Regions from separate parts of the Homo sapiens genome. Here all the other regions are linked to region 1. Evidence: fine-mapped expression QTL. A gene starts in region 1. Each other region holds a variant in brackets. All regions are shown on one strand. Distances are between the middles of the regions. Region 1 holds the start of TDRD9 (tudor domain containing 9). Region 2 overlaps TDRD9 (tudor domain containing 9). Region 3 has its middle 21 kb from the start of ATP5MJ.

The links. PIP is the estimated chance that this variant, and not a neighbour inherited with it, causes the effect. A credible set is the group of variants that fine-mapping cannot tell apart.
Region 2: its variant is the best candidate, but not a certain one, in a credible set for the expression of TDRD9 in whole blood (TOPMed, PIP 0.54).
Region 3: its variant is the best candidate, but not a certain one, in a credible set for the expression of TDRD9 in blood mononuclear cells (TOPMed, PIP 0.83).

What each region holds. Positions count from the first base shown.
Region 1 is chr14:103,923,115-103,933,546 of GRCh38, forward strand. It overlaps TDRD9 (tudor domain containing 9), which reads left to right and starts at 5,342. Exons shown (of 36, transcript NM_153046.3): 1 at 5,342-5,610. The coding sequence starts at 5,396.
Region 2 is chr14:104,008,156-104,018,587 of GRCh38, forward strand. It overlaps TDRD9 (tudor domain containing 9), which reads left to right. Exons shown (of 36, transcript NM_153046.3): 20 at 258-311; 21 at 6,570-6,686; 22 at 7,826-7,933; 23 at 9,937-10,037. It also overlaps the pseudogene RN7SL634P. Among named protein-coding and RNA genes, the nearest start is that of RD3L, 71 kb to the left of the region's middle. RefSeq lists an enhancer at 8,742-9,941. The variant G/A (reference allele first, on the strand shown) is at 5,240.
Region 3 is chr14:103,895,272-103,905,703 of GRCh38, forward strand. No RefSeq gene overlaps it. Among named protein-coding and RNA genes, the nearest start is that of ATP5MJ, 21 kb to the right of the region's middle. RefSeq lists a silencer at 6,013-6,072. The variant C/A (reference allele first, on the strand shown) is at 4,768.

The DNA of each region.
Region 1 (10,432 bases):
ATCTTAGAAGGAAATTAAAGAGGTGAGGCAGAAATATCTGAAGAGCTAATGGCTGAGAATTTTCCAAAAGTGATGAGAAAAAAATCATGCCAAAGATTCAAAAAGCCTTACAGAGGCCAGGCGCGGTGGCTTACGCCTGTAATCCCAGCACTTTAGGAGGCCAAGGCGGGCGGATCACCACACCATCCTGGCTAACACGGTGAAACCCCGTCTCTACCAAAAATACAAAAAAATTAGCTGGGTGTGGTGGTGGGTGCCTGTAGTCCCAGCTACTCCGGAGGCTGAGTGAGAGAATGGCGTGAGCCCGGGAGGCGGAGCTTGCAGTGAGCAGAGATGGCGCCACTGCACTCCAGCCAGGGAAACAGAGCAAGACTCCGTCTCAAAAACAAAAACAAAAAACAAAAAACAAACAAAAAGCCTTACAGAAACCAAGCAGGCAGATAAATAAAAATAAATCAATACCTTGAAATCTCACAATAAAGCCATAGAAAAGATAAAGATAAAATCTCAAAGAAAGTAACCACCAATCAAGAATTCTATACACAGGGAATTCTATACACAGGGAAATTGGCATTCAGAAAAGAAGGTAAAATAAAGACAGTTAAGGACAAACTAAGAGGAAATCGTGCTAGGCATGGTGGCTCATGCTTGTAATCCCAGCACTTTGGGAGGACTGCTTGAGCCCAGAATTTTGAGACCAGCCTGGCCAATGTATTAAGATCCCATCTTTAAAGGAAAAAAAAAAAGAGGAAATTATTAGGTTTTGAAGGGAAGGCAAGGGTTAAAGACAGACAAGACAGACACACACACACAGAGGGAGGGGGGGAGGGGAGAGGGGAGAGAGATGGTGGCTTCAACAGCAACACAGGTTTATTGCCAGCAAAAACCCGTGGAGCGGATAACCAGTTTAGTGCCCGAGCTCACTGCCGCTTCCAGGCTGGGGTAATTATAGGTCTGGGCTGGATGGGTCTGGGCAGTATGGCTTGCTGCCTGGCAGGATGTGATAAGGATGTTCCCGCAGTCAGGCAGTTGGGCAGGATGTTTCTTATGGTCAGAGCCCCCATGGAATGTTTCACTCCGACCAGGGTCTGTGAAATGGTGGGGGGTTTATAAAATGGTGCAGCTAGGACTGAAATAATCACAAGCAGATCCACAGTAAAATAAATGTTCATTATTCAGGCACAAGGAAAACGAGCTCAGATGTGTCAAGATAAAATAATAAAAGGCTCAAGATCCAGTTAAAATCATTTTTTTTCTTTTTTGAGATGGAGTCTTGCTGTGTCGCCCAGGCTGGAGTGCAGTGGTGCGATCTTTGAAAATGTAAAAGTGTTATTCCTCTCACACACACACACACACACACACACACACACAATGTTTTTTGGAAAACATAGTGACGTTTTAGAAAAATACACTGTTTAACATCAAACGGGTTTATCATTTTAAAATAAATAAGTAAAAACATTTCTCAGTTGTAATCCCTGATAGACATAACCCACATAAACAAAATCTCTTTAGGGTCCTCAGCAACTTTTAAGAGTGTAAAGGGGTTCTGAGACAGAACCAGGTTTGAGAACCACTGTCCTATAGTAAAAATGTTTTAGAGTTTTAGATTTATAATGACTTATAACACTGCTGAGGACGAGAACAAGCATTTAGGAAAAACTTAAGGAAGAACATCATGGAGAGCTGCTTCAAGACAGAGCTTCTGAACTTCCAACTAGACTTGAGATCAATAGACTTTGCTATGTTGCCCAGGCTGGTCTTGAACTGCTGGCCTCAAGTGATCCTCCCACCTTGACCTCTCAAAGTGTCAGAATTACAGGCGTGAGCCACTGTGCTCAGACCAAGAGAGTTTTAATGTCTTTAGTTTCAAATCCAAAACACCCTAAGAAACGCACATCTTAAAAAAAAAAAACAACCAAATGTTTCTTTTTTTTTTTTTTTTTTTTTTGAGATAGAGTCTTGCTCTGTCGCCCAGGCTGGAGCACAGTGGCGTGATCTTGGCTCACTGCAAGCTCTGCCTCCCGGGTTCACGCCATTCTCCTGCCTCAGCCTCCCAAGTAGCTGGGACTACAGGCGCCCGCCACCACGCCAGGCTAATTTTTTGTATTTTTAGTAGAGATGGTTTTTCACCGAGTTAGCCAGGATGGTGTCGATCTCCTGACCTCGTGATCCGCCCGCCTTAGCCCCCCAAAGTGCTGGGATTACCGGTGTGAGCCACTGCGCCCGGCCAAAAAAACCTAAATGTTTAAGGAAAGGGCCACTCCAGCAGATTTATTCAAAGTGCAGAATGTTGCATCTTGTGGTAGGAAGGCTGGAGAAGACAGCAAGCTACTTCGAGCACAGCTTCCTCTGCTTTGAGGAGAGTGCTGCTGAATGGCACCAACACCATTTGTAACTGCTCTCAGCTGTTAGTTTCCCCTTTTTGGTGGACGCTCAAATGCTCAGTGAATGCAAATATGCAAAACCTTCCCAAAATACCATGGCTCACTAGGGGTTCAGTGGCCTTCCCATGTGTTCTGGCCTAGATGTGACAAGTCCATGAAGATCTATCTGATGTCAAGCTGTTTCTTGTTTCTTTTTTCTTTTTTGAGACAGAGTCTTGCTCTGCCGCCCAGGCTGGAGTGCAGTGGTGCGATCTTGGCTCACTGCAACCTGCACCTCCTGGGTTCGAGCGATTCTCCTGCCTCAGCCTCCCGAGTAGCTGGGATTACAGGTGCGCGCCACTACACCCAGCTAATTTTTGTATTTTTAGTAGAGATGGGGTTTCATCATGTTGGTCAGGCTGGTCTTGAACTCCTGACCTCACGATCTGCCCACCTCAGCCTCCCAAAGTGCTGGGATTACAGTCGTGAGCCACCGCGCCCAGCCCAAGCTGTTTCTTTTAACTCTGAACTTTGGACAGCAATGCAAGGTGAACTTGACCAAGTGAGTTGGGAGCACCGAGAACTACTGAATCAAATGAAAGGTGCTCAAAGCCATTCAGTCTGTGATGATTCAGAATGTTAACTAGTGTTTGGTCAGGAAACACTATGGCAACTTTCCAAATTGGCAAATTTCCAAAGAAGCATCAAGAGAGTATCTTTGGATTGCAATTAAAAAAAAAATCAAAACTCAGAAGGATTAGCTAGTAGCCCAAAAGATCAAAGAATATAGAAAATGCCCCCCAGAAAATGTTTTTGAAAAGCATCTTCCACTTAAAATCGTATTCATTGTGACATCAACAAAGGATGACAGCACACGGTAACAGCAACATCCTAGAAAAACAGGCCAGGCGCGGTGGCTCACGCCTATGATCCCAGCATTTTGGGAGGCCGAGGCGGGCGGATCATGAGGTCAGGAGATTGAGACCTTCCTAGCCAACATGGTGAAACCCCGTCTCTACTAAAATACAAAAAATTAGCCAGCCATGGTGGTGCATGCTTGTAGTCCCAGCTACTCCGGAGGATGAGGCAGGAGAATTGCTTGAACCTGGGAGGCAGAGGTTGCAGTGAGCTATCGCGCCACTGCACTCCAGCCTGGTGACAGAGCAAGACTCCGTCTCAAAACAACAACAAAAAACAAAACAAAACAAGTGTGAGTTCTGGAGTTGCTTCAAGTGGTTTCAATATATTTTGTAAAATTTTGAATTATGTCCTAGCCTCCACATACAGTGTGAAGTTACAATATTTTCCAATCAATGCTGAATGACATACCATGAGTCTCAATTACTTTATGATTACCTTTTTTCTTATTTTTTGAAAAACATGACTGGGCATGGTGGTTCATGCTTGTAGTCTCAACACTTTGGGAGGCCAAGGGCTCCCAAACAGATTGCTTGAGCCCAGGAGCTTGAGACTGGCCTGGGCAACACAGCGAAACCCCTGTCTGTACTAAAAATATAAAAAATTAGCCGGTGTGGTGGTGGCGTGAGCCTGTAGTTCCAGCTATGCAGGAGGTTGTGGTGGGAGCATCACCTGAGCCCCCGAAGTTGAGGCTGCAGTGAGCCCTGATTGCAGCACGGCACTCCAGCCTCAGCGACAGGAGTGAGACCCTGCCTCAAAAGAAAAAAGAAAAGCAAGTTATTTCTTCCTGGCAAAGTGTGTTGAGGCACTTTTGGGAACCTGTCGTATTTGGCAGAGTCCTAATATGAGGTCTAGAGCTCATTATGCCAGGATTTGGAGCCAGAACTCCTGGCTTAGTATGATTATGGGTTCAATTTTTGAGACACCAATAGCTCAACCTACCTGCCTGATTTCTGTCTACAGTGTTTTCAAACCGCCCTCTTATTTGCCACTGCTTGGGCTTTACACTGCTGATTAGAGCCATGCTCTCGATACCGTCTCTGTATTTGTTCACATGGCTCTTTCCTGAGAGCCCACATGGGCCAGATAGATCCTGCCCTGGCCAGTGAGGGGGACACACCCCAGGCAGGTGGCCATGTCTCTCTTCTGACCCTCCCTTCCCTTGCACACGTGGCTGCCTTCCCGTGCATCCTTTGTTGATTTCTTCCCGCGGCTCCTTCTTTTGGGGAGTTTGCTAGGGCTCTGTTCTCCACCCTCACTCTTCTAGAGCTCGGCCGGGACCACCTCAGCCTGTATCTTTGGTCCATGTGATCGCCTGGACCTCCTGTCCGCACCTGTTTGTGTCCAGCTGTGAGTCTGACACCGCCGCCTGAGACACCGGTTTAGGAAGGAAGATGAATTCAGTTATGATCCGGCTGCAAAGAACTTCTCCCAGATCCTCACCTCAGCCATCAGGGCCGCCTGCCCTCCCCTATAACCCTGGGTGGTCCTCCGTCTGGCGCATTCCCCCGTATCCTGCAGGGGTCTGCCTGGCGTTACTTTCTCCGAGACCTTCCTGACCTTCTTCTTGCCCCTCTCCCCCCATATTAGGTGCAAGGATGTCCTGGTACGTCTGACCCACGAACGCAAATCCCTTCTCTGGTTTGCCTTCCATCTCCTCACCCTGAGGTGCTCAAGAAACGTATGTAGGGTCCCGGTCCGCTCAAAGCGCACAAACCTCCGAGGCAGCAGCCTCTAAATAGAGAGGCCAGGGAGTGACCGGAGGGCATTTTCTTGTACACACAGGGGTTGCCACGGAACTCCCGTGAAACAGACTCCCGGGCCAGCCGCGGCGCTCAAGCTTCCCCTGAGGTCCTAGAAAGGCTCACCCTGGGCTCGCTCGGGGCGGCGGCTCCCGGCAGGCCTAGCGCGGCGGGGCGGGGCCGGCGGCACGAGGACCAGGCAGCGCGGGCAGCACGCGCCCGGGCCGGAGCCCGCCCACAAGGGCGCGCGGCGCGTTCTGATTGGAAGGCCTCGAGCGGGGGCGGGGCTTCCAGGGTGCGCTTCCGCCGTCGCCTGTTCCCGCCGCGGAGACCCGGCAGTTGGGGGATGCCGACGCCTGGGCCTTGAGGATGCTGCGGAAGCTCACCATCGAGCAGATCAACGACTGGTTCACCATCGGCAAGACGGTGACCAATGTGGAGCTGCTGGGCGCGCCGCCCGCCTTCCCGGCAGGGGCGGCCAGGGAGGAGGTGCAGCGCCAGGACGTGGCCCCCGGCGCTGGTCCCGCGGCCCAGGCTCCGGCTCTGGCCCAAGCTCCGGCCCGGCCGGCCGCTGCGTTCGAAAGGTAGGACGCGGGCGGGGCGGAGGCGGCTGGAGGGCGGCCGGGCGAGGCCTGGCGACGAGGGCACGGGCCATCCAGATCCTTCTCGCGAGCCCGTGCCCTCTCGCGGGGCTCCAGGGACCCCTGACCGTCCAGGGCGAGTGGTCACTACACAACCCGACGCGCGGCCCAGAGCGGTGCCTGTAAGGAAGCTGAGCTAGAGGTTTTTTTTTTTTTTTTTTTTTCAGTTCTTAATGTTTAACAGACTAGTTTTTGAGGCACTCAGGTTTTCAGGATAACGGAGCGGAGGGCAGAGGTCCCATAGGCCCCTTCCCTCCCAGAGTTTCCCCTGTGAGCATCTGCGTAAGGTGTGGGTATTTGTGACAGTCGGCGAACCTGCATCGCTGCGTCTTCGTCACCCGGAGGCCATCGTTACAGGAGGGTTCACGCCTCGTACTGGACGTTCTGTGGGTTTGGACAAACGCCTAACGTCACGCATTACAGAGTTCACTGACCTACAGATCTTCTCGGCCCCACTGTTCCTGCCTCCCTTTCCCTACACCACGTGGAAACCACTGATTTTTTTACTGTCTCCATAATTTTGCTTTTCCATACTGTCATCTAGTTGGAATCACACAGTATGTGTAGCCTTTTTGATGGGTTTCTGTCACTTAGTATTAGTATGCATTTGGGGGTTCCTCCATGCCTTTCCATGGTTTGATAGCTTCTTTCCTTTTAGCACTGATTAATATTCCACTGTCTGGATGTACCACAGTTTATCTCCATTCACCTACTGAAGGAGAGCTTGGTTGCTTCCAAGTTCTCCCCCCACCCCCCGAGATGGAGTCTCACTTTGTTACCCAGGCTGGAGTGGAGTGGCGCCATCTCGCCTCACTGCAATCTCCCCCTCCTAGGTTCAAGCGATTCTCCTGCCTCAGCCTCCCGAGTAGCTGAGGCTACAGGCATATGCCACCACGCCTGGCTAATTTTTGTATTTTTAATAGAGACAGGGTTTCACCATGTTGGCCAGGCTAGTCTAGAACTCCTGACCTCAGGTGATCTGCCCACCTCAGCCTCCCAAAGTGCTGGGATTACAGGCGTGAGCCACTGCGCCCGGCCTGCTTCCAAGTTTTGGCAAGGTTTTTGTGTGGACATAAGTTTTCAACTCATTGGGTAAATACCAAGGAGTGCAAATGCTGAATCTTTGTTAAGTTTCACAGACTCCCTCCTCATCTCACTATTCTTTAAGTAGCTACCATCAGTTACTCTGTTCACTTGATTTGGGTGGAAATAAAAAGCAAGAGTATATCCTCTGTTTTTAGAGGAAAGACGTAGATTTGGTGAGTAGAAACACCTGCTCCCTCTTCTCGCTCTTTAAAAAGGCCCTGGGAGAAGTACTTCCAGCTTGGAGTATCTCCGTCACTCTTGCTCAGTCCCCAAGTCCAGCACGCTTTACAGTTGAGAAGGTGGTTTTGTTTTTCTTTTTCTTGGTTTTTTTTTTTTGAGACATAGTTTCGCTCTTGTTGCCCAGGCTGGAGTGCAGTGGCGCAATGTTGGCTCACCACAAACCTCCGCCTCCTGGGTTCAAGCGATTCTCCTGCCTTGGCCTCCCGAGTAGCTGGGATTACTGGCGTGTGCCACCACGCCCAGCTTATTTTGTATTTTTAGTAGAGACAGCATTTCACCTTGTTGGCCAGGTCGGTCTGACCTTGTGGTCCACCCATGTCGGCCTCCCAAAGTGCTGGGATTCCAGGTGTGAGTCACCGTGCCTGGCTTTATTTTTCTTTTTTAAAGTTACTCTTGTTTGTTAGTCTTGTCTGATTTGATGGATAGGCCCAGACTCTGGGTCAAGCTTTCGTGGGTTGCTTCAAGCCTTTGTAGAGTTCTTTCAAGTACACCTTTGGGATCTTTGGTAAATTTGGTTCTTAGAGGCATAGGGGGGACCGAGAGACCCCTTGTGCAACTTTGGAGTTGCTGTTTGTATGTTTGCACACTTTACTTCCTTGAGCTACTCTGGTAAATGATCCTGTGGGCCGCCTCCCCTACTTAATGGTCCATCACTTACTCCTTAGTTTTAACGGTGTGAACAGCATTGCTATTAAATAACCCATTGTAATATTGGAAGTAAATTATTATTGACCTTGTCAGAAAGTATAGATTTAAGTGCCATTTTAAGCACTAAGGACAAGTTTTTAAGATTTCTAGTCCTTCATGGACTGAGACTTTTATAAAATCAATAAAAATGAATTTTCAGAGCAATGAAATGAAAAAAGACAACATACTAATCGCAGTTAAAAAATTATTAGATTCAATCTGGGTGTGGTGGCTCCCACCTGTAATCCCAGCACTTTGGGAGTCCAAGGTGGGCAGATCATTTGAGGTCAGGAGTTCCAAGACCAGCCTGGCCAACATGGTGAAACCCTGTCTCTACCAAAAAAAAAAACAAAAATTTGCCCAGCATGGTGGTTTGTGCCTGCCGCCCCAGCTACTCAGGAGGCTGAGGTGGGAGAATTGCTTGAGTCCCTGAGGCAGAGGTTGCAGTAAGCTGAGATTGTGCCACTGCACTCCAGCCTGGGTGACAGAATGAGACCCTGTCTCAAAAAAAAAAAAAAAATTCAACATATGTAAAATTACTTTGTGAAATTGATGTAAACATTTTAACTTCTGTATTTAACCAGTGACAGGCAATGTTGGTCTATGAGTAGTGCTAGTTTTGATGAAATTCTTCTGGAAGTAGCTTCCTGGGCTCTAGGTGCATATGTATTCAATGCCAGAGTTTCCAGCACGTAGCAGGCACTCAGCTAAATATAGCTATATTATTGAATCCGCACAACAACACTTTGAGGTTGATGGCTTTATCATCAACTGATTCTTTCATGATTTTGTAGATGAAGCAATAGGTTTTGGTGGTAAAGTGACTTGCCCAACTTCCTGTAGCAAATGGTGGTGATGGGAAGAATGACTCCCCCAAAGATGTTCACTGGAACCTGTGACTATGTAATGTTACATGGTGAAAGAGATTTCGCAGCTGTAATTAAGGTTACAGATCATAGGACAGGAAGATTAGCTAGATTGTCTGAGTGGGCCCAGTCTGATCACATGAGCCCTTAAAAGCAGAGAACTTTCTCAGGCTGGAGTCAGATAAATTTGAAATGAGAGATTTGAAATATCATTGCTCGGAGGGGCCACATGGAAAGCATGAGAATGGAATATGGGCAGCTAGGAGCAAAGACTGGATCCCACTTGACAGCAGGTAAGGAAATGGGTACCTCAGTCCTACAATTGCAAGGGACTGAGTTTGCAAGGGACTGATCCTACAATTGCAAGGGCCTGGTTTTGGCCAACAACCTGAATGCACTGCCAGTAGGGAACGCAACTCTGCTAACACCTTGATTTAGCTTTAGGAAACCCTAAGCAGGGGATCCAGTTGAGTTCACCTGGACTTGTAATTAATTTGCCTTGTTTGAAACTGCTATGTTTTTGCGATTTGTTGAGGCAGCACTGCATTAGGGTACAAATCTGGTGGCAGAGCTGGGTTCGGATTGGGGTGAGCCGACCTGTGAACCCCGCACGGTGCCTGGCACATAGTGGATACTTGGATACTTGTTGAATGTTATTTTTCCCAGTGAAGGAGAGTGTTGAGTGAGGCATTGACATTAGTGAGAGAACATTTGACATAGGGGAGGGATGGCTTTTTTTCTTTTTGAGACGGAGTCTCGCTCTGTCGCCCAGGCTGGAGTGTAGTGGCGCCATCTCGGCTCACTGCAAGCTCTGCCTCCCGGGTTCACACCATTCTGCTGCCTCAGCCTCCTGAGTAGCTGGGACTACAGGCGCCCGCCACCACAGCCGGCTAATTTTTTGTATTTTTAGTAGAGACGGGGTTTCACCGTGTTAGCCAGGATGGTCTCGATCTCCTGGCCTCGTGATCTGCCTGCCTCGGCCTTCCAAAGTGCTGGGATTACAGGCGTGAGGTACTGCGCCCGGCCGGGAGGGATGGCTTTTATAAGCATAGGGTATTGCACAGTTAAAATGTATTTGTTAGAGATAGTCACTCAATGGTAAAATTAGTGTACACCAAGTCACTGCAGTCCGGTCTGAGAGAGTGTTGTTAAATCAGCTTAATGATTAAATCAGCTTAAATCAGCAGAAGAACATGGGCAATTTTTTTTTTAATCAGCTTAATGAGTAGTGACCACCAGCATTAAAAAATAAATAGAAAATGCCAGACTACATCATAGGTAGTTCAGACAAGAATTGCCGGAGATGGTGTGGGCGCCTGTGGGTCCCAGCATGAATCTTGCTCATGCTGAAGGTGAGTAACACCTTACTCACGATGAAGGTGTTGCCGGAGTGCCTGTGGGGAACAATTTATAAATTTTGTTTCCAGTGATTTTTACGGATTTCCCCATGTCTCCTCTTCCACATGGTACTGTATTTTACTCTTTGATGGTGATTATTCTTTCTGTTATCCTTACATTCTCGTGTCTTCACCTTGGCATATGAAGAAGAAAACCTCAGTGGCTGTGATATACCATTTTGAGCATTCTCCAGTGTGTAGCACCAGCTTTCCTGTGGATTGCAGCCCATGGCTGGGAGCCTTGCGTCACTCCCAGCTTCCTTCTGCCTTGTGTTTCTTTGTGCTTTCTGCCGTGTACTTTCCTGTCTTCACAGCTCACGTTAACTCCTGGCTCATGAAGATCTTACTTAATTCTCGCTTTTGTGTCTTTGACTGTTCAACACCTTATTAAAATGTTCTTTGTCTTTGGGAAGCCTTCATCATAGGAAGCTTTCAGATTTCCACTATCTGGTGATTACTTTCTTCTAGTTCCCTAATTTATTTTATTTT
Region 2 (10,432 bases), 85 kb after region 1:
CAAGTTATGTCTACCTTTAATTTTTGAGACAGGTGAACTCAGAAGAGTTTCTGTATTGTGTTTATGGTTGAGTATTACGCTCTCTGGCTTCAATGTAAAATTGGATGTACCTGGAGAGGGAGTGCCACTGTCAACTTGAGTAGCTCAGTAATTTACATTCATCATTAAATTTTTGGATGAAATATGTATTAAAGTAGCTAAATTCAGCTCTAATTTATTACCTTAATATTGAGTATTCTGCTTTTATATATTTAAAGGATGAACTTAATTGGGGACGGTTAAATTACATTCAAATCAAGAGAATTAGAGAGGTAAGTTAAGTTTTTTGACCAAATGGATGCAAATAAAGTTGACTTATGAAATATTTATTAAATGACAACAATATTTATTAAGTACGTGGGTAGTAATGAGTATTCCAAGAAGTGTATTTCCTGCCTGTTTCCAGCTTTAGTAGGAGTGTCTCTTGTGTTTTCACCTTTCAGTAGAACTACTTGGGTTTCTAATAAATACTCCTTTTCCAGTTAAGGAATGTATTTCCCCTATGTATACTTTAATGAGGAATGGTTGTGTCATCTTGTTGTATGTCTTTTCAGTATATGTCAGGATAAAGAGATTGGGTGTCGTGGCTCACACCTGTAGTCCCAGCTTCTGGGAAAGCTGAGGTGAGAGGTTTGCATGAGCCTGGGAGGCAGAGGCTTCAGTGAGCCGTGATCGCACCAATATATTCTAGCCTGGGTGACAGAGCGAGAGCCTGTCTTGAAAAAGAAAAAGATAAACATATGGTATTTTAATTTTTTACCCACTAATACAATCTTACATTGCTTAATGACAGGAATACATTCTGAGAAATGAGTAATTACATGGTTTTATCCTTGTGCAAACAGCATAGAACATACTTACACAGACCTAGATGGTATGGCCCACTACACGCCTAGGCTGTATAGTGTAGCCTATGGCTTCTAGGCTGCAAACCTGTACAGCATGTGACTGTATTGAACACTGTAGGCAATTACAACAAAATGGTAAGTATTTCTGTACCTAAACATAACTAAACATAGAAAAGGTGCGGTAAAAATATGGTTATAAAACAGGGTTTCCCAACACCTGGGCCATATTCTCCTTTTGAGAATATAACTAATACCAGATCTCAGGTGGAGCAGTTTCATCCTGAAACCATCCCCATCTACTCCGGCCTGTGGGAAAATTGTCTTTCATGAAACTGGTCCCTGGTGCTAAAAAGGTTAGGGATCACTGGTATAAAAGATAAAAATGGCATACCAATATAGGGAGCTTATGGTGAATGCAGATTGCAGGACTGGAAGTGGTTCTGGGTGAGTCAGTGAGTGAGTGGTGAGGGAATGTGAAGGCCCAGGACACCACTGCACATGACTGTAGACTATAAACAGTGCAGACTTGGGCTACACTAAGTTCATAAAAATTTTTAAAAAATTAATTGTAGCTTAATATAACTTTTTTTAACTTGATAAACTTTTTAATTAAAAAAAATTTTTGGCTCATATTAACACTTAGCTTAAAACACAAACATTGTACAGCTATGCAAAAATATTTTCTTTCTTTATATCCTTATTCTATAAGTTTTTATCTATTTCCTTATTTATTTGGTTTTTGAGCTAGGATCTCACTCTGTTGCCCAGGCTGGAGTGCAATGGCATGATCACAGCTCATAGAAGCCTTGACTTCCTGGGCTCAAGCAATTCTCCTGCCTCAGCCTCTGCAGTAGCTGGAACTACAGGCATATGTCACCACTCGTAATTTGTTTTTTCTTTCTTTCTTTTTTTTTTTTTTTTGAGATGGAGTCTTGCCCTGTCACCCAGGGTGGAGTGCAATGGCACAGTCTCGGCTCACTGTAACCTCTGCCTCCCGGGTTCAAACAATTCTCCTGCCTCAGCCTCCCGAGTAGCTGGGATTACAGGTGTGCGTCACCACGCTTGGCTACTTTTTTGTATTTTTAGTAGAGACAGGGTTTCACCATGTTGGCCAGGCTGGTCTTGAACTCCTGACCTTGTGATCTGCCTGCCTTGGCCTCTCAAAGTGTTGGGATTACAGGTGTGAGCCACTGTGCCTGTCCTAATTTTTTTTATTCTTTTATTTTTTTGTAGAGACAGGGTGTCACTTTGTAGCCCAGACTGGTTTTATCTATTTTAAAAAATAATTTTTATTTGTTAAACTTTTTTGTTAAAAACTAAGACACACATACACATTAGCCTAGGCGTACACAGAGTCAGGATCATCAGTATCACTGTCTTCCGCCTCCACATCTTGTCCACTGGAAGGTCATCAGGGGCAGTAACACATGGAGCTATCATCTCTTACAGTATAATAGTGCCTTCTCCTGGATACCTCCTGAAGGATACCTGCCTGAGACTGTTTTATAATTAACTTTGTTTGTTTCCTTTTTTTTTTTTTTTGCTACTTCTTTCAAGACATGTGAAGTTAATTTAAAAAAAAAATAGGAGTATATACTCTGAAATAATGATGGTATAGTATGATAAATCCATAAGCCAGTAACATAGTTACTATCATTATCAAGTACAGTCATCCCTTGGTATTCACTGGAGGGTTGGTTTCAGGACCCCTGTATACCAAAATTCACGAATACTCAAGTCTTACAGTTGGCCCTGTGGCGCCCATGTGAATAGTCGGCCTTCCATATACTCGGGCTTGCATCCCTCGAATACTGTATTTTTGATCCACATTTGGTTGAGAAAAACCTGCATATAAGTGGGCCCTCGCTGTTCAACCCCATGTTGTTCAGGGGTGAACTGAAATGTACTGTATGTGTTGTATGTGCTAGACTTTCATATGATTGGCAGCACAGTAGGTTTGTTTACACCAGCATCACTGCAGACACGTGAGTAAACGTGTTGCCCTACAACAGCTATGACGTGACCAGGCAACAGGAATTTTCTAGCTCTGTGACGGTCTTATGGGTCCACAGTTCTATACGTGTCCATGGTCAACTGAGACACTGCTATGTGGTGCATGACTTATACATGAATACATGATGGATTTCCCACTGTTGACCCAGCCACGTGTTCTTAGAATAAACTCTGCTTGTTTGTAATGTTTTCTCCCAAAACATTGCTCGGTTCTGATTGCCAATATTTTCTCTAGAATTTTTGCCTCTATATTTATAAGTGAAATTGGCCTCTGGTTTACGTGTGTGTGTGTGCATGTGTGCGCACATGCATGCACAATACTATGAGATGTTGTTATTGATACCACCCTGGTAGGATGAACATCTTTCTGTACCCAGGAACCATTTTAATCAACAGTTTAATAACTAGAAATGTATTTCTTACATATTTGATAGAACACATTCAAAAACACCTTTGGGATTAGTGCCTTTTTGAGGGATCAATTTTAAAAAAAATTTCAATACCCCTGGTAGTTACTGATCCATTCTGGATTCTAATTCTTCTGGAGTCATTTTTGATGAGTTACGTTTTTTCATTCAGGTACCCATTTAATCCAGATCATGAAGTTTATTGATGTATAGTTACACGTAATTTTCTTAATTTCAAATTCATGTCAACTGGTAACACCTTTCTTGTTCTTATTGTTGTGTATTTGTGTACTCTCATTGTTTCTTGATTATATTTGTATATTCAGGGAGTCCCCAAGACCATCCTCAGGTTCACTGATTGGCTAGAAGGACTCACAGAAGTAGAAAAGCTGTTATGCTTATGCTTATGATTTATTTTAGCCAAAGGATATGGATTAAAATCAGCAAAGGTTAAAAAAAAAAAGTGCATGGGAGGAGCCCTGGAGAGACCAGGTGCAGGCTACCAGGTGTCCTTTCCCAGTAGAGTCTTATGGACAGTGATTAATTCTCTCAGCAACAGTGTGCGATGACAGGCATGAAGTATTGCAACCAGGAAGCTCACCTGAGCCTTGGTGTCCTGGGTTTTTATTGAGCACTGGTTATGTAGGCCTAGAGTACCCATGTGACTGACTTTAGTTACTCAGTCTTCAGTCCCTCCAGAGGAAACTGTTACCCTCATGGCCCAAGGCCCCACCGTCAATCATATTCTAGCGTGAACTCTTTTGTGTGGCCCAAGGCCCCAGGTCAGCATGCATACTCTTATCCAGGAGGGTAAGAGTCCCTGGAGGCTTGGCAATGACCTTTCAGGAGCTGGGCCAGGGCCAAGCCTTTCTCTGGAATGTGCATGGTCTGGACAGCCAGGCCTGCTGGATTACTCCTTTACTGCAGAGTCTGCAAGATGCTTCCTTTGTGTTATTGTATTTTCAGAGAGCTTACTCTTAGTTTCATTTGTCAGTTTTCTTGTGTATGTTTTTTGGGAGGGAAGGAGTAGGTGTGGGATTCTAAATCATTGCTTTTTTTTTTTTTCCATTAATTTAGTTCTCCTTTGACTTTTAGTTTACTTCAGTCTTTCTGAAATTAGTATTTATTATTAATAATAATATTTTCAGTCTTTCTAATTAAAAGCATTTAAAGCTATGAATTTTATTATGAGCAGCTTTAGCCACCACATCCTATTGATTTTTGACATTCCTGTCTATAATTTCTTTTAGTGTTGGTTTCCTCTCTGACTAAAGAGTTTATTTTTATTTTTTAGAGACAGGGTCTTTGTCTCCCAGACTGGAATGCAGTGGCATAACCATAGCTCACTGCAGCCTCAAACTCCTGTGCTTAAGCAATCCTCCTGCCTCAGCCTCCTAAAGCTCTGAGAGGTGTGAACCACCGTGCCCAGCCCTGAAATGTTTTTAAATATCTTTTTGTTGTTGTTCATTTCTGATTTTATTGCATTTTAGTATAGAGAGTGGCATAGTCTTGGTTTTTACTTAGTTCACTTACATGTGATTACAGTCACATGAAACAGTTCCATCCCTCAGGGGTACAGAGGCGAGCATCTGAGTGTGCTCTCCCTTGCTTCCCATGTCCCAGGCTTTTCCTCCCTCCACAGAGATAGTGGCTGCTGAGTTTTTCTGTCCTTTCAATTCTTTTTAGTTGTTATTCCCCCCAGTTATGTTCACACTTGTGACTGTATTCTTTTTGTAATTGAGATACTTTTGTGGTGACTTAATTTATGATCAGTTCATAGGTATTTGGAGTTGTGTATTTTCATGTGTGTACATTAAAGTTTGACATTTTGTGTGAAACAGTTTTTATTACAACTGGATATTGATTTTATTTTCCTGTTCGGAGGGACTATTTGGCCATAGGTCACTTACTTTGTTTTTAATCACAAAAGCC[G/A]TACATGTTCATGGCAGAGGCTGGGACGTGTTTCAAGGATCTAAAGCAAGGCTGTGGTCATGGCTCTCTGCTATTCTGACCTCTGGGTGGGCACAGTTATGCGTTTGCATTGGTTCCCATCTCAGGGGTGTGTGTTTATAAACAGATCAGGGAGCATATATGATTTTGTATTCTGGTATTTTCTCTAAGTGTTATATTGTTCATCCTTAACATTACTTATTAATTAATTTCTAAGAAGATGATTCTTGCCAGGCATGGTGGCACACGCCTGTATTGCCGGTTGTTTGGGAGGCTGAGGCTGGAGGATCACTTGAGCGTAGGAGTTCTGGGCTGTAGTGCGCCATGCTGATTGGGTGTTGCATTAAACGCAACACTGATGTGGTAACCTCTTGGGAGCCAGGGACCACTGTGTTGCCTAAGGAGGGGTGAACCAGCCAAGTTGGAGCAGGTCAAAACTCCTGTGTTGATCCGTGTGGGATTGTGCCTGTGAATAGCCACTGCACTGTCTAGCCTGGGCAATATAGCAAGATCTTGCCTCTAAAAATAAATTTTAGGCCAGGCATGGTGGCTCACGCCTGTCATCCCAGCACCTTGGGGGGCCGAGGCAGGCGGATCATGAGGTCAGGAGATTGAGACCATCCTGGCTAACACGGTGAAACCCTGTCTCTACTAAAAATACAAAAAATTAGCTGGGCGTGGTGGTGGGTACCTGTAGGCCCAGCTACTCGGGAAGCTGAAGCAGGAGAATGGCGTGAACCTCGGAGGCAGAGCTTGCAGTGAACCAAGCTGTGATCGCGCCACTGCACTCCAGCCTGGACAACAGAGCGAGACTGTCTCAAAAAAAAAAAAAAAAAAAGATAATAATAATAAAAATTTTTAAGAGATTATTTCTTTTTTTTTTTGGAGACAGAATCTTACTCTGCCACCCAGGCTGTAGTACAGTGACACAATCTTGGCTCACTGCAACCGCTGCCCTCCAGTCTCAGGTGATCCTCCCATCTCAGCCTCCCAAGTAGCTGGGACTACAGGTCTGCGCCACCACGCCCAGCTAACTTTGTATTTTTTTTGTAGAGACTGGGTTTCGCCATGTTGCCCGGGCTGGTTTCAAACTCCTGAGTTCAAGTGATCTCCCAACCTTGGCCTCCCAAAGTGCTGGGATTAGAGGTGTGAGTCACCGTGCACAGCCAAAAGATGATTCTTAATTAGCTGCAGTGTTTCATTCTGTAGCTGTGTTTATACTTTACCCGTTGTGCACTTATTTTCTAGTGTTTTCACTGCTCTGATGACATATGTACCTTTGAGACATCAGATTTCAATGTATTTTTCTTAGGTGGCTGAATTATATGAAGAATTGAAGACTAGAATCTCACAGTTCAACATGCATGTTGATTCTCGGCGACCTGTCATGGACCAAGAGTATATATATAAGCAGCGATTCATCCTACAGGTGTGCTGAAGTTTCCTGGATATTTTTTTTCCTGATTCTTTCTGCTTACAAGGTCTTGTGGTCGAGAAACTGCTTATTCCTGCTTTCTGATACAAACCAAACCTCAAAGGAGATTTTAGGTCCATAGTGTTCATACTGCGTTTGGGAACCAGGAAACATTCTTCTTTCATAGTTTGCATTATTTGTTGAGTTGATGATTCACCTAGAGAGTATTTATTGTTTATTTATTAATATTTAATGGATTCAGACCCATTTCTAATTTCCAGGGGAGTGTTTCTATAGAGTACCTGTGTTATCACTGCTTCAGGAGAGATCCTTTTGTTTTAGCTTTTAAGAAAGTGAAGTGCTCTTTATATCGTTCAGTGTATATAGCTATTCCCCTACACTGAAAATATTATTTTAACTTTGGAGGCCATGGATTCAAATTACTAGTAGTTAGCTGGAATGTAGCGAGTGAGAAGTGTGTCCTGGCCAGTGGAGACTGCCTCTGCTGTAGGGTTTCCTAGAAGGGTTGGCTGATGCATACGGAATCAGGTTTGAGGTAGATGCCTATAAACCGGGTGTGCTGGAAATGTGCGAGTGTTTTCCTGGATGTAAAATTGCTCTAAGGCTGGGGGAGTCTTTGGTGGGTGTGTTTCAAACTGGTATGTTTTTATTGAAGAAGGGACTCTTTGCAGAGTGCATTTTAGAGGTGAATAGTGGATGCCAGCCTGCTGCCCTAAATCTGAGTGCTCCAATTGGAGTTTTATCTGAACATCTGAGAGTACCTTGCACATAGATGTGTGTGGGGAGAAGTGGAGAAAGTTGGCCGACCTTGGGGCTTTGTGTGTAGGATGGTTTATGTCCTTGTTCAACTTGCCACTGTTTCCCAAGCCTCATTCTGAGAAGTACTCAAGCTCTTTTGAAGAAAGATGTTTCTGTTAGGTGAAAAAAGTGTTTATTTTTTAGTGTTTCTGTTAGATGAAATTACCAGAATTGTGACTTTCTGCTTGGTTGGTGAAAGGTCTAGTTTTCCATACAAACGATAACCATCTTTTACATTTATGGATGTCATATCATGCTGGGTTGAGATTAGTATATTGGTGAGAATAACTGATAAAATAATGCTGTTACTTCATGAAAATAAATTTCTTTTTCAGGTTGTATTGGCAGGTGCTTTCTATCCAAATTACTTTACTTTTGGACAGCCGGATGAGGAGATGGCGGTGAGGGAGCTGGCTGGCAAGGACCCCAAGACAACTGTCGTGGTAGGTGCTGGGGGCAGGCCGTCCTCTCTGGGGTGTGGTGGGGCAGAACATTTTTGTTCTCTAATTGTTTCTATTCTTGTGAGTCCTAAGTGAATTTTCCCCTGGCGTGAATATTAGGCTTGTTTGGCCTTTTCAGGTGTATCTAGGCTTGTTTGGCCTTTTCATGTGTATCTACTTGTCCCTCAGTCTCTTGCCTCCTTTTACAGACCTGGCCTTATAAGGAAGCCTTGAGAGTTTATACGTTCAAGGTCAATGCTGATTTGATCATGTGCTATTTTGAAGGATTTAAGGCACTTACAAGTTTAAGAACATTTTCTTAATTCACAACTTCATTTCATACAAAATAAAATGTTATTGGTTGGCAGCTGAGTGCTGTGGCTTAAGCCAGTGACCCCCCGACCTGGATGCCCAACAGAACTACCTGGAGAGTGCTTATTTTATTTATATTCGTTGAAATTCAGATCTGAAGGCTCTGCGAGATCTGAGCTAGAAAGTATGCCCTAGAAATCAGCATTCAAGTAGTGTGTACTTTGGGCATATCTAATGATCAGCCACAGGCCCTGACCATTGAATCAGCGTTTGCAACCCAGTTGTTTAAAGCCCAGCAGCAGGGAGACTCACACTGGAAGAAAGCTGAGACTGGACTGTTTTGGATCACTTGGTTCCAGTATGTGCCTGTATCTGATAAGGCGGGGTGAGAAGCGCTTGAAGTTCCTTCGTGTCATATCGTAAGGGCTCAGTCATTGCCAGATTTTATCCTGGTTATTGTTACACCACCACTGTTAGTCCTGAAGAAATAAATAGCTCATAAGGAAAGGGCGCAGATGACTTGAGATTACAACTGGAGGTCTTTGATGAGCACCAAAAGGAGCTGGTGCTCTGGAGATGAGAGAGGCAGCTGAGATACACTTGATACCCGTGGAAGGGACTTTAAAAGGAAGTCATTAGTTTTTTATAGCTACTGAGGATCATTTGATTGGCACCTCTGCTCCTGCTGGCCATCAGGTTTGACTAAGCTCTTTGCTTGGCTTCCTCTCTCACCCCTCTGCCCCTTCGTGGTTTTCTTCCCTCAGCTGTGCGCAAGAGGAAGGGTTCTATAGGTCTCTTCCTCAGACGTCTAGTAGCTATGCCTGCATCCCTCGACCACAGAGAGCCTAGTCTGGGGGCCCAAAATTACCTAGTGTGTACATCATAAAAGCTCAATAATAGCTGGCTTTACTTAGCACTTGAGAGGCTGTGTGTTAGGTACTTTTCATTCTTCTCTGAGCCTCACTCCACCCTTTGAGTTGGGGATTTCTCATGTCATTCTTATTTCATGATGTGGCAGTTGGGTCTCAGGGTAACTCTGTAACTTGCCTAAGGAGACACGCGGATTCAGGGAGTGAGGAGACAGGATCTAACTGGATCTGAGCCCCAGCCCATGCCTTCACTTACATGCCTTCTGTCACGGAGCCCCGTGCAGAGCTGCGCTGGCACAGGAGTTGTCCTGGTCCAGAAGAAAGTATGGAGTGCTTTGCAGAAACCCAGCATGGTACCTTGAGAGTTTATACATTAAAAGTCACTGCCAATTTGATCATGTGCTATTTGGTCTTTCCACTGTGGTGATGAGGAAATACATATTCCTCTCATTAGTTAGACATTTTCCTTTAAAGTTTACATTCCCATTATTCCTTATGTAGAAATATGTTTTGAAAAGAAGTATTTAGTAAGCTTGATTATTTTAAGGGAAAACAGAAGTAAACAAATCTTAATTTTGCTGTATTAGACTTACACCATTTTAACAGGGTTAGAATTAGCCTTTATTTAACATATTTATTATAGAACTTAGTTAGAATTTAAAAGTCTTTAAATGCACTGATCTGTAGAGTTTATATATTATGGTTAAAGATAGTAAACTATGTTTTTAGAAACTAAAACAGTGTGCAGCAGCTTTGAGCTTGTGAATGTTGAAACTATTTTGTTAGCTCTAGTAATCTGCTCTGATTTTGTGTTATATTTTACAGTTGAAACACATTCCTCCCTATGGATTTCTTTACTATAAACAACTACAGTCTCTCTTTAGACAGTGTGGTCAAGTCAAATCCATTGTATTTGATGGTGCAAAGTAAGTATATTTTTGTAATCAACTGCAATTATGAAGGAGGCATAATGATTCAAATGTTTCCAGACGCTGATTGTTAAAACGGAGTGCCCATGGAAATGGGTCCTCCTATGGGCTGCTGCAATTGGCTTTCAGAATGTAGCTTTGGTTTATCTTATGGTCAGAAGCAATTTGTCTTCTCTTTCTGCTAAGTGACCTCCTAAAGGAACTAAGCTGCTGGTTAGTGGTCAAGCATGGTCACTCCAAGAAGGCTCAGTAACTCAGTGTGATGCTAAGGCGGATTCTCTTAAAGTGATCTTCACTTTCACGCACTGGTCTGAGATTTTCTCAGTGAGTCATTAGTAAGAGTTATTTTGTGGGCCATGAAGGTGATCCAAAATAGAGTGTATCTGCTTATA
Region 3 (10,432 bases), 28 kb before region 1:
CTCTTGGGTTCAAGCGATTCTCCTGCCCCAGCCTCCTGAGTAGCTGGGATTACAGGTGTGTGCCACCACACTGGGCTAATTTTTGTACTTTTAGTAAAGACAGAGTTTTACCATGTTGGCCAGGCTGGTCTTGAATTCCTGACCTCAGGTGATCTGCCCACCTCAGCCTCCCAAAGTGCTGGGATTACAAGTGTGAGCCACTGCACCCAGCCGTCCTGTGGGTTCCTTAAGCGAAAAAATGGACAGTCTAAGACCAGCCTCACGCGGCTGTTACCTGGACCAGGCAGAACCCTGTGCTCACAGGGAACGAGGTCCACTGCAGGCTCCTGCACTGGAGTGCCGTGGCGCCCTCCCTCTTCTGTCTGAGCCAGCATTGCCTCCCACATGACCCCAGTCCCATCACATCCCGTGGGGTTCACACTCCTGGCCTTCCCAACCTGACTACATAGCTGGATTCTCCCTCCCCTCCCCTCCCCTCCCCCTTTCTTTTCTTTTCTTTTCTTTTTGAGACAGAGTCTTGCCTTGTAGCCCAGGCTGGAGTGCAATGGCGTGATCTCGGCTCACTACAACCTCCGCCTCCCAGGTTGAAGCGATTCTCCTGCCTCAGCCTCTGGAGTAGCTGGGATTACAGGTGCCAGCCACCACGCCCAGCTAATTTTTGTATCTTTAGTAGAGACCAAGTTTCGTCGTATTGGCCAGGCTGGTCTCGAACTCCTGACCTCATGATCTGCCCACCTTGGCCTCTCAAAGTGTTGGGATTACAGGCGTGAGTCAGCCACCGCACCCGGCCCAGGGAGCATTTTATTTTTAAGTGACAGGGTCTCACTCTGTCACTCAGGCTGGATTGCAGTTGTGTGATCATGGCTCACTGCAGCCTTGACCCCCTGGGCTCAAGTGCTCCTCCCACCTCAGCCTCCTGAGTACCTGGGATTACTGGCACGCACCACCCTAGGAATTTAATTTAATCATCCAGCACTGGTCAGCCCCAGGCTCCTTCCTCCAGGCACTTGGCTCCCCATCTCCTCCTCGGCTGGTCTGGGCTGGGTAGGTTTGCAGGGCTGGACTCAGAAAGTTGTATTTTAGCAAAGCTCTCTCCCAGACTTGAAGGTGCAGCCCAGAGTAAGTGCTTGGAGAGCTGTAGCACCCCTTCCAGGAGGATCCGTGAGACGTGGTGAGACCCCAGAGGAGACGGGGGTACCTGTACTGCCATGGCCCCACACTGAGGGATGAGCACTGCCTTTGTGCCAGACGAGGAGAGAAACCACAGGGTGTAGCTTGGCAATGTGGAGACGGATCCCGCCTTCCTTCCAGCCACATGGAGATGGATCTCTCCTTCCTTCCTGTCACGTGGAAATAGATCCCACCTTCCTTCCCCATCATGTGTGGAGACGTATCCCGCCTTTCTTCCCTGTCATGTGGAAATGGATCCTGCCTTCCTTCCCCATCATGTGGAGATGGATCCTGCCTTCCTTCCCCGTCATGTGGAGATGGATCCCGCCTTCCTTCCCCGCCATGTGGGCCTGTGGGGGGAGTGGGAGGGACAGGTAGATTCCTTTTGGTTTCCTGCCAGCCCACTCAATCCCTCACTCTGGGGAGAGCAAGGATAAACTGTGTAGGATAAACTCACCCCCAAAGTGGCTAACTGGTAGCTGCAAGGCTGCATATTCCCCAGGCCTGGGCCAGACAGTTCCCATCAAAGGAGAGCCTGGTGCTGGTAGGGTCTCCCCCAAAGGATGCTTTGTTCACCCATGGAAATAAACACTTCCCCTGGATAGTTACTCCTGGGACTCGAGTGTAATATGGGGTGTACGTTACTCTTTAACAGGTGACTCCATCCAGGTCATAAAGCTCTTCTGAACTAAGTTCCTGGAAGATAGGCGTTACCACCTCCAGCCCGGGTGTTTATTAACCACTCCCACGGTGGCCACGGAGCAGCCAGGGGTAGTTGTTGCCAGGACGCTGGGCTCACCTTCTGAACTTTGTCCTGAGAACCAGAGCATGGCGGGCCACCCTCATCAGCTTTCCCCAAACCAGCAGGGAGTTGGCACAAGACCAGGGGCTTGGCAAGGGTTGCTTTCCTCTGCTGCAGTGAGGAGCCTCCGTTTAATCCCCACCTCCCCCCTCTGCAGCCACTTTGAAAGAACTGGAGTGAACACAGGCTCCTGGCAGGGAGGAGGTGTCTAAATCACCAGGCTGGCCTCTGGCACCGAGGCCCAAAGCACTCTCACCGCCATTGCCACCCAAACCTGGACTTCCAGACCAGGGCCGCTGGGCTGACAACCATGTGTCAACCTTTAAAGATGAAATAAAACTGCATGAAACCGGGAGGTTTAAAAACCAAAATATAAGGGACCCAGATGGGCGTCTCAATGGTGGAGAGAGACAATGAGCAGAGCTGTGGGGAAGGAAACCCCTGAAACCCTGGCCTGTCACGCGGCATGGATCACCGGCGGACACCAGGCCCGAGGGCAGCTCGCGCATAGGCTGGCGGGAGACCTATAGGCTGGTGCCGAAGATGAGCCGGGCCAGTCAGATGTCCCATTCAGGTTTGGACCATAAACAGAAGAGGGAGGCTCCTTGGAGAAGGGAAATATGGCCAAAAGGTCGTGTGGGTGCCATGGGGCCCCACACAGCATCGTGACCCTAGTCAGGAGGAGCGGAGCAGCGTAGCAGGGAGCAGGCACGGGGAGGAGAGAGGACAGCTTGGAAATGGGTCAAGGAGGCCCCAGTGAGACACAGAGCCAAGATCTTCTAGGCCGCTCTGTGTCCAGGGCCAGCCACAGTTCTGGGATCCAGGAGTCCTGGGGCCCACAGTGTCTTCTTGGATCCCCAAAAGATACTGTGTCCCGACAGGGCCAACATGGGTAGATCTCAGCTTCTTTTGATCCCCCGTGAGAACATCTTAGAATGGGCGTCTGTGGATACTGGAGTCTGTTCTCCTTCCAGGCTCCATGGCTGCCTCGGTTCACAGGCTGGGAGATGAGGAGTGGAGTTGGGGCTGTCACTTGCATGAGACGAGGGTGGGCCTGTGTGGCGAGTATAGAATCAGTCAAACACTCACCTTCTGATGAACTTAGATCAACTTGTGTTGGCTCAACTGCTGGGCATGTTGGGACCTGAGAGTTGGGTAGGCATGTGGGGAGAGGTGGGTATAAGCCTGGCTCCTAAAGACAGTGGCAATCTGCCCAAGGGGGCTGGTGAGTGCAGGCACAGCTCAGGTGGGAAGGCACACCGGAAGGGTGTTCTGGTCAGCAGTGACAGCAGCTACATCTTTGTTTTGGTATATATATATGTATATGTACCATATATTGGAGATTGGAGGAGAGTCCCTCCCCTCCTGGAGAGAGGGGAGCATGGGGAGAAAGGAAGGATCTCTGAGGCCCAGCTTGATGCTCAGCTCAGGGCAGGAAAATAGCGGGGAAGCCCAGCCTCTTTGCCTGACACACATGGTGGAGAGGTGGAGGGAGACTGAGGCTGAGCCCAGCCTCCAGGTCTACCAGAAATTGAGTTTAAGACAAGACCAACTGCGCCCCAGGCACAGGTAGGGGTGGCTCCTTGAATGCTCCCAGCCATCATCAGGCCTGGAGCAGTGAGCACACAGCCGGGCCTCGCCTCCTGCAGCAGGGCAGGCAGGGCGGCAGGGGAGGGGAAGGGAGCCCAGCCCCAGGTATGCAGCCTCGGTCTGCGGCTGCTCTCCTCACGACACCTGGAAGCTGGGCCGGGGGGCTTTTCTTCTGAAGGTGGGTGCACCCTGTGCTGTATTTGGAGGAAAATTCAGCTGTGCTGACTGGGCAGAACTGCGGGTGGTTCAAGTCTTTGCAGAAGGCCTTGCTCCAGGCTTCCTTCAAAGGCAGGCTCTTTTAGGTCAGTGGGCTGCACTTGAGTATGCATCAGAATCTCCTGGAGGGCTCCTGAAACACAGGCCTGGGCCCTATCACGGAGGGCCCAAAGCAGGTCTTGGGTGGGGCCCAAGAACCTGCATTTATGACAGGTTCCCAGATGCTGCTGCTGTGGCCCCAGGAAACCCTTTGAGAACTGCCACTGCAGGCCATTTCGGTTGGAATTTGATTTGCAAACGTTCACATCTGCAGTTCCTCTTAGAAGGGAAGGCGCCTTCTCAAGCACAAGTGAAACAACTCTCTCCACCTGCTGGTGTGCTGGTGCTTGGGCTGCGGGGAAGGGATGTGTGTGTGAGGCAGAGGCCCTCAATTCCTCCGGGTGGGGTGGGGAGATGGCCTGGCAGTACCCATGGCTGGGGGCAGAGCTATCCTGTGGGCCTGGGGAGCCCGCCTGGGTGATGAGACGTGCTGGCACAGGCTCCGCAGCCGGCAGCGCCTCGTCACAGGGGTGGGCTTCAGAACTGCTTGGGCTGGCATGAGAGGCCGCGGGTGCTGGCTTCCCTGGAAAAGCCACTCAGCTTTGAGACCAGAGAGGAGATGCAGACACAAGCCTTCGTCTTCACCCCTTTTCGAAAGAGAGAAAGCCCGAATCTCAACAACAGAGTGTCTCTATCAGTCCCATGGTTGTCCTCAGCCTGGGGAGAGCCTGAGCCGGCCAGGACAGGCAGCTCTTCCATGTGGCTCCTTGCGGTCCCCACAGTAGTCGCTTTGTGGGGCAGGGAGAGGCGACGGGCATCCCGCCAGTCTCCTGGATACTTCAGGACATGGGTAGGCCCACGGTGGTGTTCCCACGCAGTTTTGGGATGTGCAGTCACCTGAAGGCAGCTGATGTGAAGAAGAGCACGGTGGGTGGTGTGGGCAGGGTGGC[C/A]ACCCCGGGATTACCTGTGTGCTGCCCACATCCGCCCAGGTGGGGATTCGTGCTCAGGTGGCTTACTGGGGGGTGCGGAGGAGAGCAGGCTTCTCAATGCTTATGGAAACAGGAGAAGACAAGCAGGAGGTGGGTTTCAGGAGGCGAGTTTCGGCCCAGGTCCTGTTGGTGCTTGCAGCAGCTTGATCCTAGAGTGTGCCTGGCAGTCAGTGGTCACACGCTGCAACGGGGGAACATGAGCCTCCAGCACTTTTTTTATTTTGAGACAGGGTCTCACTCTGATGCCCAGGCTGGAGTACTTGGTGCCACCATAGCTCACTGCAGCCTCTAGCTCTTGGTTGGGCTCAAGCAATCCTCCCGCCTTGGCCACCTGAGTAACTGGAATTACAGGCATGTGCCACTGCGCGATTAAAAAAATTTTTTTTTGGCCAGGCACGGTGGCTCACGCCTGTAATGCCAGCACTTTGGGAGGCTGAGATGGGGGGATCACTTGAGGTCAGGAGTTCGAGAGCAGTCTGGCCAACGAGGTGAAACTCTGTCTCTACTAAAAAATACAAAAATTAGCCAGGCGTGGTAGCGCACGCCTGTAATCCCAGCTACTCGGGAGGCTGAGGTGGGAGAATTGCTTCGACTCAGGAGGCGGAAGTTGTAGGGAGCCAAGATCACCATTGCACTCCAGCCTAGGCAACAGAGCGAGACTTCATCTCAAAAACAAAACAAAACAAAACAAAACAAACAATTTTTTTTTTTTTTTTTTTTTTTTTAGAGATAGGGCCTCACTTTGTTGCCCAGGCTGGTCTCGAACTCGTGGACTTAGATGATCCTCCCACCTCGAGCTCCCAAAGTGCTGGGATTACAGGCGTGAGCCACCGCTCCTGGCTGAAATTCTTCTTTCAACCAAGGAAGATGTGTAATGAGCTTTGTGACCCCAGAAAGGCATGTGCAGAGCGTGGCTGAGAGTGGCAGGTGTGGGTCCCAGGCGAAAGAGGTCGACTAAAGAGGAGCTGTTCATCATGGGGTGGGCACTCAGGAAGAGCCAGAGATTCCTGGGCTTGGAGCACCAGCATCTCAGCATGTTCCGACAGAAGGGGCCTCAAGGTGACTCCCTTTGGGAAGCTTTGGCTTGAACCCACTTTTCCTCCAGCAGCGCAGAGCTTCTCGCTCGCTGGTGTGCACCGGCGCGCTGTCCAGCAGGGGGCGCCACTCCCAGGGCCGCTTCCCCGCGGGAGCCCTCCCTTCCTGGCATATCGTGGGAGCAGCGTTCCCTCCCACACACCTGACTTAGAACCCCCAGAGTTCTCACATGCGAGTCGCACTTGTCTGCTGTATTCTGAGTATATTGTGCTTGCAAATCAATCCTAAGTGAATTCTATTTTGAATTCAACCAATGAATGTAACGAAACCTCAATCACTGAACAGAGAAAGCAAGTTTGAGTTATGTAAAACTAAATGATGAGTTATTTTACTTTATTTTTAATTTTATTATTTTTTTTTTAGATGGAGTCTCCCTCTGTCGCCCAGGCTGGAGTGCAGTGGCGCGATCTCGGCTCATTGCAACCTCTGCCTCCCGGGTTCAAGTGATTCTCCTGCCTCAGCCTCCCGAGTAGCTGGGATTACAGGTGCCCACAACCATGCTCAGCTAATTTTTGTGTTTAGAGATGGGGTTTCTCCATGTTGGTCTGGCTGGTCTCGAAGTCCTGACCTCAGGTGATCCACCCACCTCGGCCTCACAAATTGCTGGGATTACAGGCGTGAGCCGCCATGCCTGGCATGATGAATTATTTTAAAATAAGGCTTATTGATATCTCATTTAATTCTTAACTTTATGAAGAATGCCTTTTTATCTTCTTTTGCTGCTTACAAGTTCACACAGCATCTCAAGCCTGGATTACTGGCCAAGAATGATGTATAATGACCACCTCACTTACTTATCTGTAGGTGGGTATTTCTAAATGCTTATGGGTACTTACATTTTAGGACTCCTCAAATATTTTATTATTATTATTATTATTGGAGGTGGAGTCTCACTCTTGGCTGGAGAGCAAGTGGCGTGATCTCCACTAACTACAACCTCCGCCTCCTGGGTTCAAGTGATTCTCCTGCCTCAGCCTCCCGAGTAGCTGCGACTACAGGCATGTGCCATCACATCCGGCTAATTTTTGTAATTTTAGTAGAGACAAGGTTTCGCCATTTTGGCCAGGCTGGCTTCGAACTCCTGACCTCGAGTGATCTGCCCACCTTTGCCTCCCAGAGTGCTGGGATTACAGGCATGAGCCACCGCACCCACCCAGGACTCCTCAAATATTTTAATATTACTCTGGCACATTTGATTAAATAGCACTAAATTTCCCTATCTATGAAGAAACTATTTGCTCAAATAAAGGGGTAAATTTCAGCCCAGGCACTCTGAGAATTATCAATGGTTTTGAGACAGGATTTAATGTATCATATTGGATACTTTTCATTCATTGAAAAACTAGGTCTTTATTTTCTGAGGGTTAGCCTAGAATTTTTTTTTTTTTTTTGATATGGAGTTTTGTTCTTCTTGCCTAGACTGGAGTGCAATGGCATGATCTCGGCTCACTGCAACCTCCACCTCCCGGGTTCAAGCGATTCTCCTGTCTCAGCCTCCCGAGTAGCTGGGATTACAGAAGCCCGCCACCACACCCGGCTAATTTTTGTATTTTTAGTAGAGACGGGGTTTCATTGTGTTGGTCAGGCCGGTCTTGAACTCCTGACCTTAGGTGATCTGCCCACCTTGGCCCCCCAAAGTGCTGGGATTACAGGTGTGAGCCACCACGCCCAGGTTTTTTTTTTTTTTTTTTTTGAGACAGGGTCTCACTGTCCCGCACACTGGAGTGCAGTGGTTCGATCATGGCTCACTGCAGCCTCAACCTTCTGGGCTCAAGAAATCCCCCTGCCTTAGCCTCCCAAAGTACTGGGATTACAGGCATGAGCCACCACGCTTGGCCAGCATAGAATTTTTAGAAACCTTTTTTTTTTTTTTTTTTTTTTTTGAGATGGAGTCTCACTCTGTCACCCAGGCTGGAGTGCAGTGGCGTGATCTCGGCTCACTGCAAGCTCCGCCTCACCAGTTCACGCCATTCTCCTGTCTCAGCCTCCTGAGTAGCTGGGACTACAGGCGCCCGCCACCATCCCCAGCTAATTTTTGTATTTTTTTGGTAGAGACAGGGTTTCACCGTGTTAGCTAGGATGGTCTCGATCTCCTGACCTCGTGATCCACCCGCCTCGGCCTCCCAAAGTGCTGGGATTACAGGCGTGAGCCACCGCACCCGGCCAGAAACTTTTCTTATAGCTTTATTGAAGTATAAAGTCTCCACATAACATTATGTCTACATAATTTGGAGGTTATTGGTAAGTTTCACATTAATTGCACAATTTGATGAGTTTTTTTTTTTTTTTTGAGATGGAGTCTCACCTTATCACCAGGCTGGAGCGCAGTGATGCGATCTCAGCTCATTGCAACCTCCGCCTCCTGGTTCAAGTGATTCTTCTGCCTCGGCCTCCCAAAGTGTTGGGATTACAGGCATGAGCCACCGAGCCTCGCCAATGAGTTTTAACATATATATACACAGTCAAACCATCCCCACAATCAAGAAAATGAACAGATCCATCACCCCCCAAAGTTTCCTCCTGACTTTTTGTAATCAATCCCTCCTCCTCCATCTCTGCTGTGTTTCCCTTAGATGAGCCCAGGAGTTCAAGACCAGATGGCATCTCTCTCATTCCTGATATTGATTTTATCTTCTTCCTTTATTTTTTTCTTGATCAGTCTGGCTAGCGGTTTATCCATTTTATTGACGTTCTCAAAGAACCAGCTTTTGGTTTCATTGATCTTTCTCCATTGTTTTTCTCTTTTTCGTTTCTTTTTTTTTTTTTTTTAAGGAGGGGTCCTGCGGCCGGGTGCGGTGGCTCACACCTGTAATCCCAGCACTTTGAAAGCCCGAGGCGGGAGGATCACGAGGTCAGGAGATTGAGACCATCCTGGCTACACGGTGAAACCCCGTCTCTACTAAAAATACAAAAAATTGCCGGGCGTGGTGTCACGCACCTGTAGTCCCAGCTAGTCAGGAGGCTGAGGCAGAAGAATCGCTTGAACCGGGGAGGTGGAGGTTGCAGTGAGCTGAGATTGCGCCACTGCACTCTGGCCTGGGTGACAGAGCGAGACTCCATCTTGAAAAAAAAAAAAAAGATGGGGTCTTGCTATGTTACTGAGGGAGATCTTGAACTCCTGAGCTCAAGCAATCTTTCTATCTCAGCTTCCTGAGCCTGGGATTATAGGCACATGCCAGAGTGCCCAGCTCTCTGTTTTCTCTTCCATTGAAACGTCTAATTTCTTGTCTTTCCCATCTTTGGCTTGGGAAAAATTTGCTCTTTTCTTTGTAGTTTCTTACGTCTCATGTCTGGTCCACCTAACAGGCTTATTTCTATTAATTAACCCAGTGGAGTCTATGGTAAGCATCAGTATCTTGGAGTTCAGTTATGGGAGACTCATTGCCTCCAGACTGATTAGCTCTGGAGGACAGGCTAAATCAAATTTCTACTCTGGCAATAGAAAGAGCTACCAGGTTCCTGGACCACAATAGCTGCACTGAGCATGGTCCTTCCCTCTGGCCTGGCCAGGAAGTCAGAAACCATTCTGTCATTTCCTTGTCATTAGTAATAGAGTAATTGGTAATATATAGTCACTAAAGATATCCCTTACTCTATTTTAGCAAGAGCTAGGAAATTATTTTTTAATTAGCATCCTTATTTAATTAAATTCATTAAAAGATATGAGTACCTACCATAAATGCCTGGTCCTTTGTTAGATATCAGGCTTACAAGAGATGAATTCATGTCCTTTACATACATCTGCAATTTATCATCTATCCTACAATTGCTTCACAGTTTACTTTATTTTTGGATGATGCAATTTAGGTTCATTACAAATCCATTAGCTATAGAATTACAGAGCTGAGAGAGATTCTGGAAGTCTTAATTTAGAGATGAGAAAGCCGAGGCCCAGAGAAGTTACGGAGTTTGCCAGAGGCCACACAGGCAATGAGCAGTAGCTCCAGCCGGAACCCGAATCCAACCTATGTGAATGATCTCAGGTACAGGGGCACAAATAAGAGGCACAGGCTGTGCACAGGCATTTGCAGAAATACATATATATATATATTTTCTTGAGACAGTCTCACTCTGTCATCCAGGCTGGAGTAGAGTGGCATGATCACGGCTCACTGCAGCCTCGACCTCCTGGGATCAGGTAATCCTCTCGCCTCAGTCTCCTGAGTAGCTGAGTAGCTGGGACTACAGCCCGGCCTGGAAACACTTTTTACATGGCACAATAAAACCAGAATAGGCCGGGGGCGGTGGCTCACGCCTGTAATCCCAGCACTTTGGGAAGCCGAGGCAGGCGGATCACGAGGTCAGGAGATCGAGACTATCCTGGCTAACACGGTGAAACCCCGTCTCTACTAAAAATACAAAAAATACAAAAAATTTGCCGGTCACTGTGGCGGGTGCCTGTAGTCCCAGCTACTTGGGAGGCTGAGGCAGGAGAATGGCGTGAACCTGGGAGGCAGAGTTTGCAGTGAGCGGAGATCGCACCACTGCACTCCAGCCTGGGCAACAGAGTGAAACTCTGTCTCGAAAAAAA